2 separate regions of the Homo sapiens genome follow, and region 1 is linked to region 2. The links come from fine-mapping of genetic effects on gene expression. A gene starts in region 2. The other region holds a variant in brackets. All regions are shown on one strand. Distances are between the middles of the regions.

Region 1 (8,335 bases), 32 kb after region 2:
AATAAGGCTATGGGAGTGTGTCAGACGAGGGATGTTTCATGAACCACACGTTCTTTGGTATTTAAAAAAGGCTGAAATTCCTGGTATTAACACATAACCACTGGCATTTGTCTGTTGTGGTAACATTTTTGGAGCAAAAGTAGAAAAAGACTGAAAGTTAAGAAATTAGAAATGCAAAGTAAGCTTTATTTTTAAGAACTTTCAACAACTTATACTTTTATAATCTTATACGATTATTGCAGAGAGGAAGGGAAAATACATGTTTTCTACAGTGATATCAGGTAAGGATAGCCAGTCAATGCTTTTTTATAGATTAGCCCAGAGACAGGGTCAGAAACAGATCCAAGCCACTACAGGTACCAATGTAAAAATGTAGAGATGCTAGCAAGGAGCTGTGCAGTAAGATGTCCCCAGTTGTCTTGGCTTGGATTCTGCCAGAAAGTGGAGTAATCTATAACAGGTATTTGGGTACAAGTGATTTAAATACTTACTATAAAGTTACAATAATCACGACTGTGTGCTATTGTGTAAAGACAGATGTGCAAATTCATGGAGCAGGATAGACCCTAGAAACAGGCACACACATACATGATTGATCAATTTCCCACAAAGACACCAATGCGATCAATGAGGAAAGGGTGGTCTCTTCAGTAAATGGAGGAAAAATGTGGATAACCACGTGAGGAAAAAAATGAACCTCAACCCTTATTTTGCACCACACATTAAATTCATTCCAAATGGATCCTAGATGTAAATGTAAAAGATTAAATTATATAACTTATATAAGGAAATAAATGTTCTGTGACCTTGAGGCAGGAAGATTTCTTAGAACATGAAAAACACTAAACATTAATGTAAAAAATGACAAATTTGAGTTAATCAAAGTAAAACCTGCTGCTTTTCAAAAGACACCTATAAAAATGAAGAGGCAAGTCAGAGACTGGAGAAAGATATCTGCAAAGGGCTGGTGTCCAGAATATAGAAAGAACCCGTATAACTCAATAAGAAGACACATAACCTAACAAAAAAAAAAACAGACAAAAGACGAACACAAAATTTATTTACATACATGAATGGTCATTAAGCAAATGAAAAGATTTTCAACTGAATTATCATCAGAGAAACACAAATTAGAACCACAATTCTTAGACACTATTTTACAATTACTACAATAACTAAATAAAAACACAGACAACGTCGAGTGTTGGCAAGAATGAGGAACAAGTGGAATACTCACATATTGCTGGCCACAGTGTAAAATGGTACAGCCATTTTGGAAAACTGTTTTGCAGTTTCCTATAAAGTTAAATGTACACTTACTATATGATACAGTTGGCTGTGTCCCCACCCAAATCTCACCTTGAAATGTAATAATCCTCCTGTGTCAAGGACGGGGCAAGGTGGAGATAGTTGAATCATGGGAGCAGTTTTCCCCATTCTGTTCTCATGGTAGTGAATAAATCTCATGAGATCTGATGGTTTTATAAATGGGAGTTCCCCTGCACATGCTCTCTTGCCTGTTGCCATGTAAGACGTCCCTTTGCATCTCCTTTGCCTTCCTCCATGATTGTAAGGCCTCTCCAGCCATGTAGAACTGTGAGTCAGTTAAATCTCTTTCCTTTATAAATTACCCAGTCTCAGAAATGTCTTTATTAGCATCATGAGAACAGACTAATACAATATAAGATCCAGCAATTATACTATTAGGTATTTACCCAAGAAAAATGAAAATAATGGCTGGATGTGGTGGCTCATGCCTGTAATTCCAGCACTTTGGGAGGCCAAGGCGGATGCTCATGCCTATAATCCTAGCATTTTGGGAGGCTGAGGCAGGTGGATCACTTGAGGTTAGGAGTTCGAGACCAGCCAGGGCAACATGGTGAAACCCTACCTCTACTAAAAATACAAAAACTAGCCAGGCGTGGTAGTGAACACCTGTAATCCCAGCTGCTAGGGAGGCTGAGGCAGGAGAATTGCTTGAACCCAGGAGGCAGAGGTTCCAGTGAGCCGAGATCGCACCACTGCACTCCAGCCTGGGTGACAGAGTGAGACTCTGTCTAAAAAACAAAAAAAAAAAAAAAAAAGAAAAGAAAAATGAAAATAATGTTTACACAAAGAGAGAGAGAGAGAGAGAGACACACACACACACACAAATGTGTCTATCAAAACTCATAGAAGTATTATTCACAATAGACAAGAACTGGAAACAACCCAAAGGCCCATCCAGACGTGATAATAAACTGTAGTATTTTCTTACAGTAGAATACTACTCAATAATAAAAAGGAACAAACTACAATAGAGGCAGCAACAGGGATGAATCTCAAAATAATATACCAAGTAAAAGAAGCAAGACACAAAAGAAGGCATACTGCATCATTCCAGCTACATGAAGTCCTAGAACCTGAGAGCACAATCTATAGCCCTGACCAGAAAGGTGAGCCAACACAGCCTGTCCGCGCCTACTTTGCCCTGAGCTAGAGTATCCAGGCTTAGCAAATAAAAATACAGGATGCTCAGCTAAGTTTCAATCTCAGGGAAACCACACATCACTTCTTAGGATAAGAATATCCCAAGCAATATCAGAAATATGCATGACATCTACCTGCATGGAACATACTTATACTGAAAAACTATTCCTTGTTCATCTGAGATTCAATTTTAATTAGGCAGTCTGTATTTTATCTGGCAACCGTGCCTACACTGTAGTTTGCTGTTGGCTTTTTAAGGGCAGGGCAGATATCTACTCATCAAGAGGTCCACTAGACTTGGTCTTACCCCAGCCACTTCTCAGAAGACAGAAAGCAAGCTCTGCCCCGGTCCACCTTAGAACTGCAGCCCCTTTCCATGCTTGGGGCCAGTTTTGCCATTGATTTCTCCAAGGGACTCCTCAGTAGGAGGGTGGGGGTGGCAAGTCTTGCCATCCATCCAAGGTCAGGGTGGTGAGCCCACAGCACCTGGCTTCCGCTGTGGCCACAGACAGAGCCCAATCTCTGACTCGGATGGATCCTTTTGACCACGTTTTTAGTATTTCAAGTTGTGAAAATATATCATCACTGTGTTGCTGTTTCATTTCGGCAATCTGTGTCTGTTCTGCTTTTCTTTTCAGGAGACATCTAAAGCTCCTGTTACTTTGCAGAACACACTCAATAACAGTTAATCAAGTCAGGGATTATGGCCACACAAGGTTTTTAGCAAGTTTCTGAGAAGTCAAATACCAGGTGTGATGTGTGCTAGTATTAACCACGCTGCCCAAGGAAAGGATCTGGCTTATGTATATTGCTTTTCACGCTAGAAAAAAAAAAGAAAACAAAACCTCTTTGAATCAAGACCTGTTAAGAGTTGTTTGGGGAATTATTTTTAAAAGAACTATTCTTTTTGGAATACCTACTTCCAACATAAACACTTTCTTATTAGGTTATTTTTATTTTTCTAGCCTAGCAACTAAAAAAATGTAATCTGCAGAACTGATTGCCTAATAGAAGCACATTTGCTTGCTTGCTTGAAAGAGCATGAATACGCATTAGTGAAAGAAAGAAAACTGAATTTGATAAGAACATTAACCCTTTTGGAGAAAATGCAGACAAAAGTAAAGGCGGTGGAAGAGAGCACGTGGGTGATGAAGCTGGGACACATTTTCCCTCCCTCCAGTTCTTGGAAAATTCCTAATTCTGGCTCATAAGTAATAGTAGCAAAAAGGTAAAAACATAAAATTAAAGCAGCCACGTAAAGAGGCAAAATTCTTGGGATTTAAGCCATTCAGAAGGACAAGTTGTCCAGGTCTCAATGTGTACAGAGATATCCAAGGGGCCCTGTACCACTTGCATTTATGCCAGGGTGGCCCAATGGAGAACTGCTGTTCAAACTTCAGGGTCATGGATTATTATGACACTAATAAAAATGATGAACCTGCTTCCTAGAAAAAAGCATATGCACCCATGGGCCCATACATTTACAGGCCATTCGAGAGGCTGAGACACTGCCCCAAGCCTATTCATGGAGCCCTGGTAACAATCCTTGTACTAGGCAAAACCAGCCTCCTTACCAGCTTCTGCCTCCTCCTGGCTCATCTCCACCAGCCGCTCACACTTAGGACCAAGGCAGGCTGCCCCTGGGCTTGACCTTGGCCTCCTCCATTCTCCCTGTCAGCAGGTGGCAGCCATCCCATTGCTGGTATTCCTAGAATCCAATCAGGATTAGTAGACCGCTTGCCACAGTGCTACACAGCCAGGTAACACCGTGTTTAACCAAGCAGTGGTGAGAGATTTGGGGCAGGAAAGGGGCTGA[G/C]CTTCTGCAATGCAGACAGGCAGCGTGGAGCCTCCCAATACCACTTCCTGCAGGGCCCAGGGCAAGGCCCTTGCTCTCTCTGAGTTTCTGTGTCCTCATCTGTAAATGGGAATAATAACAGTGACTGCCATAGGAGCTGCAAGGAGGATGAGATGATATTATGCATATAAAAGTGCCAGACAGTCTCTAGGCACCTAGAACCCTCAAGGGGCCAGCTGTCATAACTGCCGACAGTTCACATGCGTCTGTGTTTCACTATTAGTTTCACTTCACACCTGCAGAGGGATTTACACACTGCAAGGCATTTCCTTTGGAAATTTATTATTGTAATTCCCTATTAACTCACAATACCCAGGAGATAGGAAATAAATTATTATTCCCATTTTACAGGTGAGAAGACTAAGACTCAGATAGATACGTTAGGTGAGTTGCTTTTCTTGACTCCCAAAGCTGGTACCTTCCCCCGGAATCAGGTCATCTAGCAGAAACCCAGGAATTGAAGGTGATCAATGTTCCCTCCCCCAGATAGAAAGACATGGGTTACCCACAAGCTACAACCAAGTTCATGAACAGTGCAGAAGCCTTTCTTGTTCCCGTCATATCACAGAGCTCTCTGCTTGAACTCAACGTCACGGCTTCTCATCCCACCTTTTACTCCAGCCACTGTGGCAGCAACAAGCTTCCTGCAGGAGGTACCTGTGGGCACCTTTTCTATGACACACGCATGGTGCCCACACAGCCTGGGAATGACTCTGTGTGGCAGCCCTGGACCAAGGGAAGGCATGTACTGGATGACGGCTCCTCCTTCTGTCCTCAGGCAGACCACTCTGAGAGGCAAGTCCCCCCCAGCTCCTCAGTGCCCAGTGGATGGGATCCGGCAGCCCACAGTGGCGGCCAGCCTGAGGAAGCACTGTGGAAGACCTTGCCCTTCTCCCCACTTCACTCTCTCAGCCCTGCTCCTGTTCCCTGATATGAGCTCCCCGAACAAACCCCATCATGCTAGGCCTAATACCTGGGAGGAACCCAGTCTCCAGCAGGAGCCCTTGCTCTTGTCTGTCTCCCTTTCCTCCCACTGCCCTCCCCACCATCCTCTGCACCCACCTCCCTCTGCTGGCCCAGCTAGGGGAGCCTACCGGACACCAAGAAAAACCTGTCTTTATAAAAGCTGCTGTGACTCAGGACTCAGAAGGTCCCCTACTCCACTGGGGCCTATCATGAGGTAGAGAATGGGAGGAGAGAGAGGACCAGGAAAAATAACAAATGCGTACTAGGCTTAATACCTAGGTGATTAAATGATCTGTACCACAAACCCCCCTGACACAAGTTTACCTATGTAACAAACCTGCACATGTACCCCTGAACTTAAAAGTTTAAAAAAAAGGACTCCCCTCCCAAGGGACTGGATCCCAACATCAAAGTTCCATGACTGATTGCCTGACATCAGCACTCCCCTTCCTCTGGAAGGCCCCAGCTTGAGATCCGGGCTTTCTTCCGTCATGGCCAAGCCAACTCTGCGGGGACAGAAGCACTGCTCCTAAACCCCCACCCCAGGGCTTCCGCCTTTCCACCCAAGGCGAGAAGCCAGCAACCTTCCCCAGCTTCCCTCGGATTCCTCCTTCCATGCGTGACCTTGATGGGAGGCCCTGACACTTCAGCCAGGGTAGTCTGGTGCCAATCTTGACTGGAGTCAGACCCACAGGTAGCTGATTTATTGGAGATAGAGTCTTCTTAGCAAGCCTCCACTTTCGGTTGATTCTACACCCAGGGCCTCACACACACCCATGCCTGCCTCATCCTGACCCACGGGTACAACACCAGGTTCATATCTGCCATGTTTGCATCAAGCACACCGCCAAGCTCTGCCTGTGAAACATTAGAAATACAATGAGTAATAACCACAGCATTCCCTGGCCTGGCTCCAAAAACACTGCATTGCTCCAAATCTGCTCCATCCTAGACCCCCAACCCAGTTTCCTGCTGAGGTTTCGGCTCTCTTCCTGACCCCTTCCGTGAGTGAGAAAATATGTGAATATGGAACTACAGGACTGGAAACAAGCATCCACATTTGCTAGAAAGTTTCCTCCTCAGAGCCGGAAGGGCCTGGAATCCTATGGAATTCAGAATAACCAGAAATGGACAAAACCTCCACTCGAATGGATGAAATTCCCCTGAATAATAATGATGGGAAATTGCTTGCCGTGTCCCAACAAGCCTTAGTGGGTCCCGCGGAAGGAGGCCATGGGGATGGAGCTTCTCAACCCCAACTGTCCCCTGTGAAAGCCCAGCCTGGCTTCTTTTTAGTTAGGATCCCAGCTGCATCCCAAGAGGCTGTCCAGGTCATTGCCCACTTTCTGAGCTGGGAAAACTCTAAATTCTAGCCATAGCGCCATACTATATCTGAGTAGTACATAGAAGAATCCTATGCCAGGCCATGAAGGACGAAAGAGACCCTCAGGAAGGCCACAGAAACACAGATTGTGAAAAAGCCTTTCCTTCACCATCAAATCCTTATATCTGTCTGTCCACCATTTTTGTCTAACCACTCAAGTCCCAGTAGTGGTAAGACCAAGACTCAAATTCAAGAACAGACCTCTTTTCCTCCTCTCCATCCTAACCAGTTGAAGAGAAATCCAGGAGAATTAGAACAGAGATCTCCCATTAAAAACACTTCCAAGATATTGCCTCAACTTGTTGAGTTGGAAAGGACTCAGCAACAACTTTCTCAGGCAAGTTGACTCCGAGGAAAACGAAGCAAATCATCCACATTAAAAGCTAGAATTCTTTGGAGGTGCTGCCTTCAAAGACCCAGTCCTTACAGTAATTCCACCCAAACATATTTGCCAAGAATTTCCTTCCCATCAGGCAACTCGCTCTCGGGGCTGGAGACATAAAGGGAAGGGACCCCATGCTTTTCATGTAGGAGACCCACGTGTTTCCCTGAGATCCCAAGACTGAGTCTTGTATGACAGTGGGACTGAGCAGGATAAAACCAAACACTTATGAACACCAGGGTTTGACGGGTAGCAATGCAAAGGCCCCAAACACCAGAAAGCAGAGCAAGGCCAGCGATTGCTGACACGTCAGCCATAGAAGTTGCAGAGCCAGGAGAGTCAGAGCTGGAGGAACCGAGGGCAGCAGGGGACAACTGTGAGCCACATCTCCCCACCTGCTCCCTGTTGTGGTCCTCCTGCTGTCCCCACACAAAGCCCATCAGCAAGAGGCCTGGCCTGGATGGGGAAGCAGATTGAGCCCAGACATCCTTGGTCCAAGAAAAGTAATCTTTAAAGTATACTTGGTTAGTGTTACTTTTATGAACTAGGCTATTTTTTATACAATTTTTAGCAAATATACTACATAAAGGGGAAATTTTCCCTAATATTTTAGGGAAGGTAACCATCACCATGCCATTGTCATGTGATAAACTACTTGTCACAAGGCCACTGTACGACTGTTCAGAGTTTGGTGCCTTTAAATCTGATCCCCATGGACCACACGCTAGAAGATTCCAGTTGGCAGAAGCATGTGATGCCATGAAACTCAGCAGGACAGGGACAAGGCAGCTGTTTCCTGTAGGGCTGTGCATCTCCACAGTGAGTGCTCGCCCAACCAGGCTGTCTCTGCTCTTCCATGAGTGGGATGAGAAGTGTTACAACCTGCAAATGCTTCCGATGGAAAGAGCCTTTGGGCTTCCTCTACCAGATCTTCTGGAGGTGGGGGTCTCAGCAGAAGCAGCTGACTGAGAACCATGATATTTCTTCTAATGGAAATGGGACATTTTTGTGGATGAGTGTTTGGGGGTCACACAAAAGGAGTTGTCTGATCAGTTTATAGATGTACAACGTGTCATATGGGTTCCTAATCAAGTCATCCTCAGGTAAGACTGGCACTAGATGGGGTAAGCGGTGTTCATGCCTCAAACCTATCAATGGCTTCACTTCACTTAGGCAAAACCAGACCTCAACCTACCCACCATCTCCTCTTCACCTTTAAAGAATAATCAGCAAAGATGTGCTCATCCATCTGTCCACTCATCTATCCATTCGTCCACTC
Region 2 (8,335 bases):
ATTAGGCAACTGCGCATCATTGAGTGGGGTGTGTGTGTGTGTGCATGTGTGTGTGTCTGTGTGTCTGTGTGTTTTTAACCAATGCTACATCGAATCTATGGGGAAACCAACCAAGTAACCTAGGGGAGCTTTGGCCCAGGCAGACTCTCTGTGACTATCTGCTAGGGCTGATAGCAGAATGGGTAGCTGTCTGTCCCCTCTGCTGCCAGCAAATGGAAAACAGTCTTGACTACACATTCACTAGTGACCGTGAGTGATCTTATTTTATGCAAGTACATAACTGCTTTGAATTACTTGAGAACGCAAAAAATAATAACTACAGAAAACTCTATATCCTGATTCAGATACAGTCCACCTCTTCCCAGGGTCCTTAGACATACTTCACATGAACACGTGGGACACCCTCGTCCACTTTAAGGATTTGGGGGATCAAATAAATCCCACGTCCAGAAACCTGATCTGGTCTATTGTGCTCAGCTGCCCGACAGGGAAGCAAAGCTATACCCACAAGAGCAGGTCCAGAGATTCCCACGTCACAAAGGCTGCCGTCTGGGCCGGCCCAGTGTAACCAGAGCCCTGATTCCCACCCAGCTTAGGACTAGGACGAGGCAGTGGGAGGTCAGCCAGGCTAGGAGAGCCTCCTCACCCCCGCCCTAAGCCAGACACAATGGGGTTCCCAGGAGGACACTGTGCAAACTTAGGCTCTGCATATACAACTGAGGGAGGATGGCCACATATCTGTTATAGCAGGAAAAGCAAAAGATGCTTACTATCTGGCTGACCCAGACTTCAAAACGCAAAGTCCCCCACACTGCCCTGGGCTCGTTATCTGTCCCTTTGCCAACAGTGGTTCAAGGCCACCTGAGATAGTCTCGGCCCCCATCCACTTTTTCAGTGCCTGGAACAAAACACAGTCTGCTTCCAAAACTACCTGTGGCTCTTTAAAATTGTCACCATAAAATTATGCAATTCCCTGATCACTTTAATATTGAAGCAATAGTGTTTTGTTTTGTTTTTTTCAATTCCAAATTAGTCGATAAAAGCATCAAACATTCCCTGAAGGAAACCATCAAATATTCAAAATCAGGGCCACCGCCTGCACGCCTCCCTGTCCTGATCTGTCTATTTCTGGCTTGCTTTCTTTTATTTCAACAGAAAATACGTGTCCTGGAGCTTTGTCTTTTCCTTCCTGAACTTTAGTAACACTTGACATGACACGATCTTTAGTTTCTTCCTGAATTATGCCTACACACGTGCAATCCAATTGAAGGCGTTTTAATACTATTCTTGCTTCTAATAATAAAACTAAGTTATTTGATTGCCTGGTTTAAAGGTACAAATGCCTTCTGGCCCCAGATTCCCCTCATGTTCTACAAAATCACAAAAAAAAAATCTAAAGTTTTGCAATCTTTGAGGTCTTTTTCTTTCCCCTCGGTTACTCTTAAGGTTTATAAAGTGACTGCCCTTCAGCCTCAGGTTTGAGTGACTTCAACCAATTTCCCTCACGTCGACTTGAAAACAGGAGCTCTCGCCCTAAAATGATCACACAAAAAGCCACTGTTCCTGATTAAGCAGGGTTTTTTGTTTTGGGTTTTTTTTTTTTTTTTTTTTTTTTCATTCAGAAAGCCTATACTTGGCCTGTTCTGGGCCTGATTAGAAATCATAATACCTTCTCAACGCTTCAACGACTTGCTGTTAATACGGGGAAAACACACCCCCAAAGCCCTGCGTGTGTCGCACAGGCATGCTGCCTTGGCGATGCTTTATGGAACTTTTTTAAAACTACGTCTGCAATGTCTGCCCCTTAAAAGAGAAAAGCTGATGGGCAGCAAACTGCAGCCATTTCTCCATCTTCCTTCGCTTTCCCACCCCCATCCTGGGCAGCTTTCCCCTCCCCCCAATCTCCTGGAGGTTGTGGCATTAAGCTCTGCAGTTGTGTGCACATTCAAGTGTTTATGGCAGAGACTGGGGAAAAAAGAGCAAATTGTTTCCAAGCTAGAGCTCCCATGTGCAACTTTGCTTTAGAAAAGACTTTCCATCTGGGGAAAGCTCATATTCTGATGAAAGAAGGGCAAGCAGTTTATCCATTTAAAATCTATGGAAAGTTAAAGCACAGAAACCAGCAGCCTCCACTTTCTTTGCTAGGCGTGCCTAGCTGATGTCCACATTTTTCCTGGAATAAATAAAGGGACACTAAAAGCAGCATCTGCCTTTAAAAAAGAAAAGAACAAAGTTACCATGTTGAGACTTTGCAGACTGAAGTTTCAGGGGATGTCACTGCACCAAATACATTCAAAGGGCTGTAAACCATTTAAGGAGGCTCTCTCCCACTTTTGAAACACTAAGTAATCCTGTTGTGAGCAAAAGGAAAGAAAGAAAGAAAGAAAGAGGAAGAGAGAAAGAGAGACAGCCAGTCTGACTTTTACAACTTCTCATTCTCCCTGGAAGTTACAAGTCTTGGCTAACCACCCATCCCTGACCTCACTCCAAAGTTCTCTCAGTCACTCCTTGAATCTTTGCACATGCCAACAAAATTGAACAAAATCCACATTTTACCTGAAGAGTATATTTAAATTGCAAAATAGTAGATTTGTGTGTGTGCTTCCCCCAACCCCAATTGAAGTTGGACTTAACACCTTCTAAGAGAACAATACTCAAATTAGATTAGCAAGCGTGCCATCAAGAGAAGAGAAGACCGGGCTGTGTTTAACATTCACGTTTATAGCTTCCGGACTTACAGACTCTGGTAAATCCCCCAAAGTACTGAATTCAAATACATCTTGGACTCACAAAGATTCTCAGCAGTTTTCTGCTCCATTTAAGGATGCCTCTTAATAAAGTGTTCATCATTCTGGAATTACGTATTTACTGCCAATTTTATCTGTTTCCAAACTGATATACTAGAAGCAAAACAGGTAAACAGTGGGTGCCAAGCTAATCCCCATGCCAAATTGGTCAGGCAGAATGGATAGTCTGTGTTCTTGCAAAGTTCCCCTGCTTACTGGAGCTTAAATAGCCACACAGCAAATAAACACCAGATTCCTAAATACACATGGAAATTTCCTTCTGCAAGTGACTTAAGAAAACTGCCCTTTGCTTTCTGAAGAGAAAGGTGAAGCCCTCCGAATTAGCAAAAGCACTTTGCAATGCAGCTGCGTGCAGCCTGGGTTTTCAGAAACCAGACCCGCAGACTCAAAAGCACCCATCTGAGCGATTTTAAAGAAGGCCTTTGAAAAGACCACTTGGCTTAAGAGCAGAAGCCGTGCCTTCTTTCCGAGCAGAGCTGCTGCCCGAGCACCGTTTCCTTACCTCCGGGCTGGCTGGGCTGGCTGGGCTGGCTGGGCTCGCTCGCCTTCCTGGCTGTGCTGTGCGCTGGCTCCCTTAGTGCTGAGCACTTTGCAACAACTGTGAGCTCTGCTGGCTGCAGACTTGCATTATATACACTGCAGAAAGGAGCCTCTAGCCTCTAGATGGCAGCTTTGTAACCCACATCTCTCTCTCCCCCGTGCCACCCCCATCCCACAGGCAGACACACACACACACACACCCCCCTCTTGTAAACCTCACTAGTCTGTTGTTTCCTGCACAAGTGTACTCTTGGGAAACCCCAGCCTTCTTTCATTTGCAAAATCTGGTGAAGCCACAAAGTCCAAACCCCACGGGGGGAAAACGTCAGCCAAAGACAAACTGCAAAGAAACCCTAGTGCTTGGCAAAATCATCAAATATTTATCTGGTCTCAGGTATATCTTGAATAATCCCATTAACACCAAGAGCTCCTGTGAATGCCTCTTCGCTCTAGGGAGGACTTTGTTCCCAAGACAAATTACTCTGAACTTCTGAACTTCGATGTTGATTTACTAAGCCTGGGTTTTCCTTGTTAATTCCTCCAAAACAGAAGTAACAGTTTTGGTATGACCAATGAATCGATGCCACACCGTATATCCCCAAAGTGGAGAAAAGAGTCTTTATAATAGATTATACTTGAATACTTTTATTTGTAAAGGACTTTAAGTACAAAATCCTTGAGACTCTAATCAAGATAGTATTCTACAGTGTCTGCCCAGTGCCAGACACGCATTAGGAAGATAATAAATGCCTTTTGATAATGTCTTTTTCTGAGATGAGTCTGGCAAACACTTTACTACAATTATTGCAATCTACATTCTTATTTGGATGCGTATTGCTAAAGTTCCCCCCACGGAGGAATTCAACCTAAAAATGTGATCCAGGTGATACTCATCTCCAATGCCCCATTTACAAAAATCGTCCATAAGATAGGGACCCAAAGGCCACCCGCCAGCCCATCCCATGTGCAATGCTCTGGCTTTCGTATTGCTTTCTGATCTCCTGGAGTTCTTAAAGAGCGGCTCAAGTGGAGTGTATGAAGGCACCAGCTGTATTCACGCCTTCTCCAGAGCTAAAACTTTTCGAGATTCTTTTTATACTTCTACTAAAAATAACAGCAGACGCTCGGTCCCAGCGCTGAATCTGGGGGACTGGGAGGTCAAAGTCTCACGTGGCTAGAAAGTCTCCGTGTGGAGAAAGCCCTTAACGAAAGAAATATTTTGTTTAGCTAAAAGCTTCACATTTTTCTCCTGAACTGGCTGCCCAGCGGGAGGCGAGGTGCACACCTGCTCTCCGGGGGCCTCCGGAGGGGTCGCCCTGGGGCCGGCCTTTCCCAGCCCGAGCGCAGCGTCCCGCCACCGCCTCTGCAGGGCGGCGCAATCACTCTTCGTGTCACATCGGCACCAAGGACATCTCCAGGCTCCCCAGAGACGCTGGAAAGGAAAACTGCCAGCGGCTGCGTCTACCCACACCCAAGATCTAGGCGAGACCTCGACTCTCCACAGCATACGTGTCCTGACTTTTTCTGTCCTGTTTCTTTCTTGTGGGGGACCCTGTGTCTGAGCCCGCTGGAAATGTACGGGGATCCCCTCTGGACTGCAGCTCGGTTTCCGCTTTCTGTGGCTGTAGCCGTGACTCCGGGGCCTGTCCTTCAGAGAACGCGCTCCGCATTGCAGAGCCTGCGCGCCCGGTGGAAACACAGAGTGGGTGTCAATCCGTTCTGAGCTAAGTGTACTGTCGCTGGAAGAAAGGCCACATGGGCCGGGGACCCCGGACAGGATGCTAACGTAGAGGAAGGAAAAGGCAACGCAGTTTTTTTAAAAAGTAGAACCCGCTTCGTGCGTCCGGGGCCAGAATCCACGAGGCCGCCTTGCAGCAGCCTGCGCCCTGCCCCGCCAGCCCCGGCCCCGCGCCCACCCACGGCCTGCACCCAGCCCCGCACCCACACACGGCCTCGCGCCCTCCCACAGCCCCGCGCCCTGCCCCGCACCCACCCACGGCCCGCACCCACGCCCTTCCCCGCGCCCAGACTTGTTCCGCACTCACGCACGGCCGGGCACCCGGCCCAGGCGCCTGCGAGAATTCTGGCCCCGGGGTCACCGCCCTCGCCCTTCGACGTCCCCCACCCGTCCCCTAGTTCCGCCGGGCGGGGCTGCTGGAGGCTTCCAGACGGGGAGGGGCGGACCAAGCGCCAGCGGGGAATGGGGCGGGGTGGGTCGGGAACTCTGGCCAGGCTCCCACCCTGGGAGGAGGAGCTGGGTGCTTGGGGCCTGAACTTGGCTGTCTCCTTGGGCCTCCCACCCTGTCCCAGAAAACAGGCCTGGGGGAAAACGAGAGGGTAAGCAAGCAGGGCTTTTTGAGAAAACGAGATTCCATTGCCCTAGGACCTAAAAGTCTCTTTTCAAAGTTTTGAAGAGTGTCTCTGCTTTTGGAAGATTGTGCTTTCAGTGTAAGGGCAGAACTCCACCTCCATCCTCTAGGGGTCCCGGCTGGGTCCGAGAATTAAATTGACATAAGATAGATGAATAGGAGGAAAGCATAGTGCAAGTTTCACGCGGCATGGGAGCCCTCATACAGAAATGCAGACCCGGCCGGGCGCGGTGGCTCAGGCCTGTAATCCCAGCACTTTGGGAGGCCGAGGCGGGCGGATCGCGAGGTCGGGAGTTCGAGACCAGCCAGGCCAACATGGTGAAACCCCATCTCTACTAAAAAATACAAAAAATTAGCCCAGCGCGGTGGCGCGCGTCTGTAATCCCAGCTACTCGGGAGGCAGGAGAATCGCTTGAACCCGGGAGGCGGAGGTTGTAGTGAGCCGGGATTGCACCATTGCAATCCAGCCTGGGTGACAGAGTGAGACTCTGTCAAAAGAAAAAGAAGGGAAGGGGGAAGGAAGGAAGGAAGGTAGGAAGGAAGGAAAGAAGGAAGGAAGGAAGGAAGGCAGGCAGGCAGGCAGGCAAATCCTCCTTGGGGAAAGAAAGAAAGAGGGAGAGACAGAGAGAGAAAGGAAGAAAAGACAGAGAGAGAAAGAAAGAAAAGAAAGAAAGAAAGAGGAAAGAGATGACGACCCGAACAAAGAAAGCAAGAAAGAAAGCAACAGAGAAAGGCAGGCCCTAGCAAAGAAAAGGAAGGAAGGAAGGAAGGAAGGAAGGAAGGAAGGAAGGAAGGAAGGGAAGGAAAGGAAGGAAAGAGGGACAGACCCGAGCAAGCAGTTCGCGTCCACTACTTAAATACTGGATTAAACAGAGAAGAATAAACTTTGAAAATGTGACTAAAAAGATTAGAGTGACGCTCTGCAGTATTCTTTAGCTGGCAGCTTCTAGTCCTAAGGATAAGGATGCTGTCTTCCTTCTGCTATGGGGAGAGTGATCTTGCACCTGCTGTTTTTCAAGTGCCTTTCACTGAAACAGTTACCATGCCAGAATGCATATTTTAACCTTTTCAGTAAGGTCCAATATAATGGTTCTTTTGGGTGGGAATGTGTTTGGTGGCACCTAATAGAAAACTCAGAGAAGGCACGAACAGGACGCTGTCCCTACCGCTGTCCCAGCTGACCCAGAACTAAAAGTTCCTGGATGTTTTGCTACCCCTGAGTGCTTATTGGAAAGGGGTCAGGAAGGGGTTTCAGCTAAGCTCCTCCCTCCTTCCCTGTCTGTAATCTGCACCTGGGGTTGCACGCCCCACAGGGCAGGTGGTCAGCTCTGTCTGCTCTGGGATCTGATTCGCCTGTAGATGTGGCACCACCAGGCTTCTTCCAGAAACCGCACCTGACTTAAAAGCGTGAGGATCCTGGCGGGCCAGAGCGGCGGCCGGTAGGGTCTGTGATCTGGGAGCCCCGTTAGAGTGGAGACAGTGCAGTTATGGTGACTGTGATATGAGCCCAGAGAGGCTCAGCTGCGCCGCTGGCCTGAGGACGAGGCGTTCCTCATTCTTGGAGTTGTGACCCTGGGAAGAAGCTTCATTATCTGGTAGCTGGGCATGGCAGGAGTCATTTCACCTGGGACTGGACGCTCCCCCAGAATAACCGCAACACCAAGCCCCTTCTGCAGGGCAACGGCTTAAAAGCAAAGACAGCCCCTCAACTCAAGGGAATTGGGTTCCTCTGTCCAGACAACCTGGCTTGGAACCCTGATATATACACACTGTAGGGGTGGGAAAAGTCTACCTCCCTCCTCTTAGGGTCCCAGCTGAGTCCAAGAATTTAATCCACATAAGATAGATTAACAGGAGAAAAACTTAATACAAACTTCACGCAGCACAGGAGCCCTCATAAAGAAATGAAGACCCCAAAGAAGTAGCTAAAGTCAGTTAATTATGTAGTGGATTGGACAGAGAAGAGTTAGTTGTGAAGAAGCCACTAAATTATATGGAGAGGCTTAAAAGATAAGAGTTATTTTTAACAAGATCTGTACAGAACTCTCCCAGTTTCGACTTTGACTATATAAAAATGTTGCATCATCTAGGGAGGGCATCTTTCACATAGGAATTTCACCCTCTGCTTTTAAGAAACAGCAGGAAGGTCAAAGTCATCTTGTTGCACCTGCTGTTTTTAAAGTGTTGAACTTAGTCAATACGCTGGAATCGCATATTTTAACCTCTTCAACACCATGTCTCCTCAGATAACAGCCTCTTTGAATGTTAGGTTCCTATCTTTATAATTATAATAGAGCCTTCTATTCTAGCTGGGTGCTTGTCAGGATTAAACGAGAGGATGCACATGAGTGGTTTCTTGCAGGTATCTAGAATGGCTATTTCTCTTCCGCTTCTCTCCTCTGTCCCCAGCCAAATTCCAGTGATAGCATACAGTTTTAAAGGAATGCAACAGATATACGTTCCAAGGCTTGACAACATTTTTGAACTCTCTGATGAAGTTTAGAAAGGTTTTATAGTCATAGGTAAATCTGAGTGTTCATGTTTTCCCATCTTTCTGTTAAGTATGTTGCCTATCTTCTTTCATTTTATCTTCACAGCAGCCATAAAGGTGGCACTGTC

Evidence for each region.
Region 1: its variant is fine-mapped to the expression of ACKR3 in whole blood (TOPMed, PIP 0.92).

Annotation. Positions count from the first base shown.
Region 1 is chr2:236,533,056-236,541,390 of GRCh38, reverse strand. It overlaps a transcript of ACKR3 not described here. Among named protein-coding and RNA genes, the nearest start is that of DRC11, 30 kb to the right of the region's middle. RefSeq lists enhancers at 3,128-3,177, 4,281-4,500. The variant G/C (reference allele first, on the strand shown) is at 4,286.
Region 2 is chr2:236,564,899-236,573,233 of GRCh38, reverse strand. ACKR3 (atypical chemokine receptor 3) reads right to left here and starts at 3,409. Exons shown (of 2, transcript NM_020311.3): 1 at 3,310-3,409. RefSeq lists enhancers at 4,173-5,048, 5,049-5,924 and a silencer at 5,350-5,399.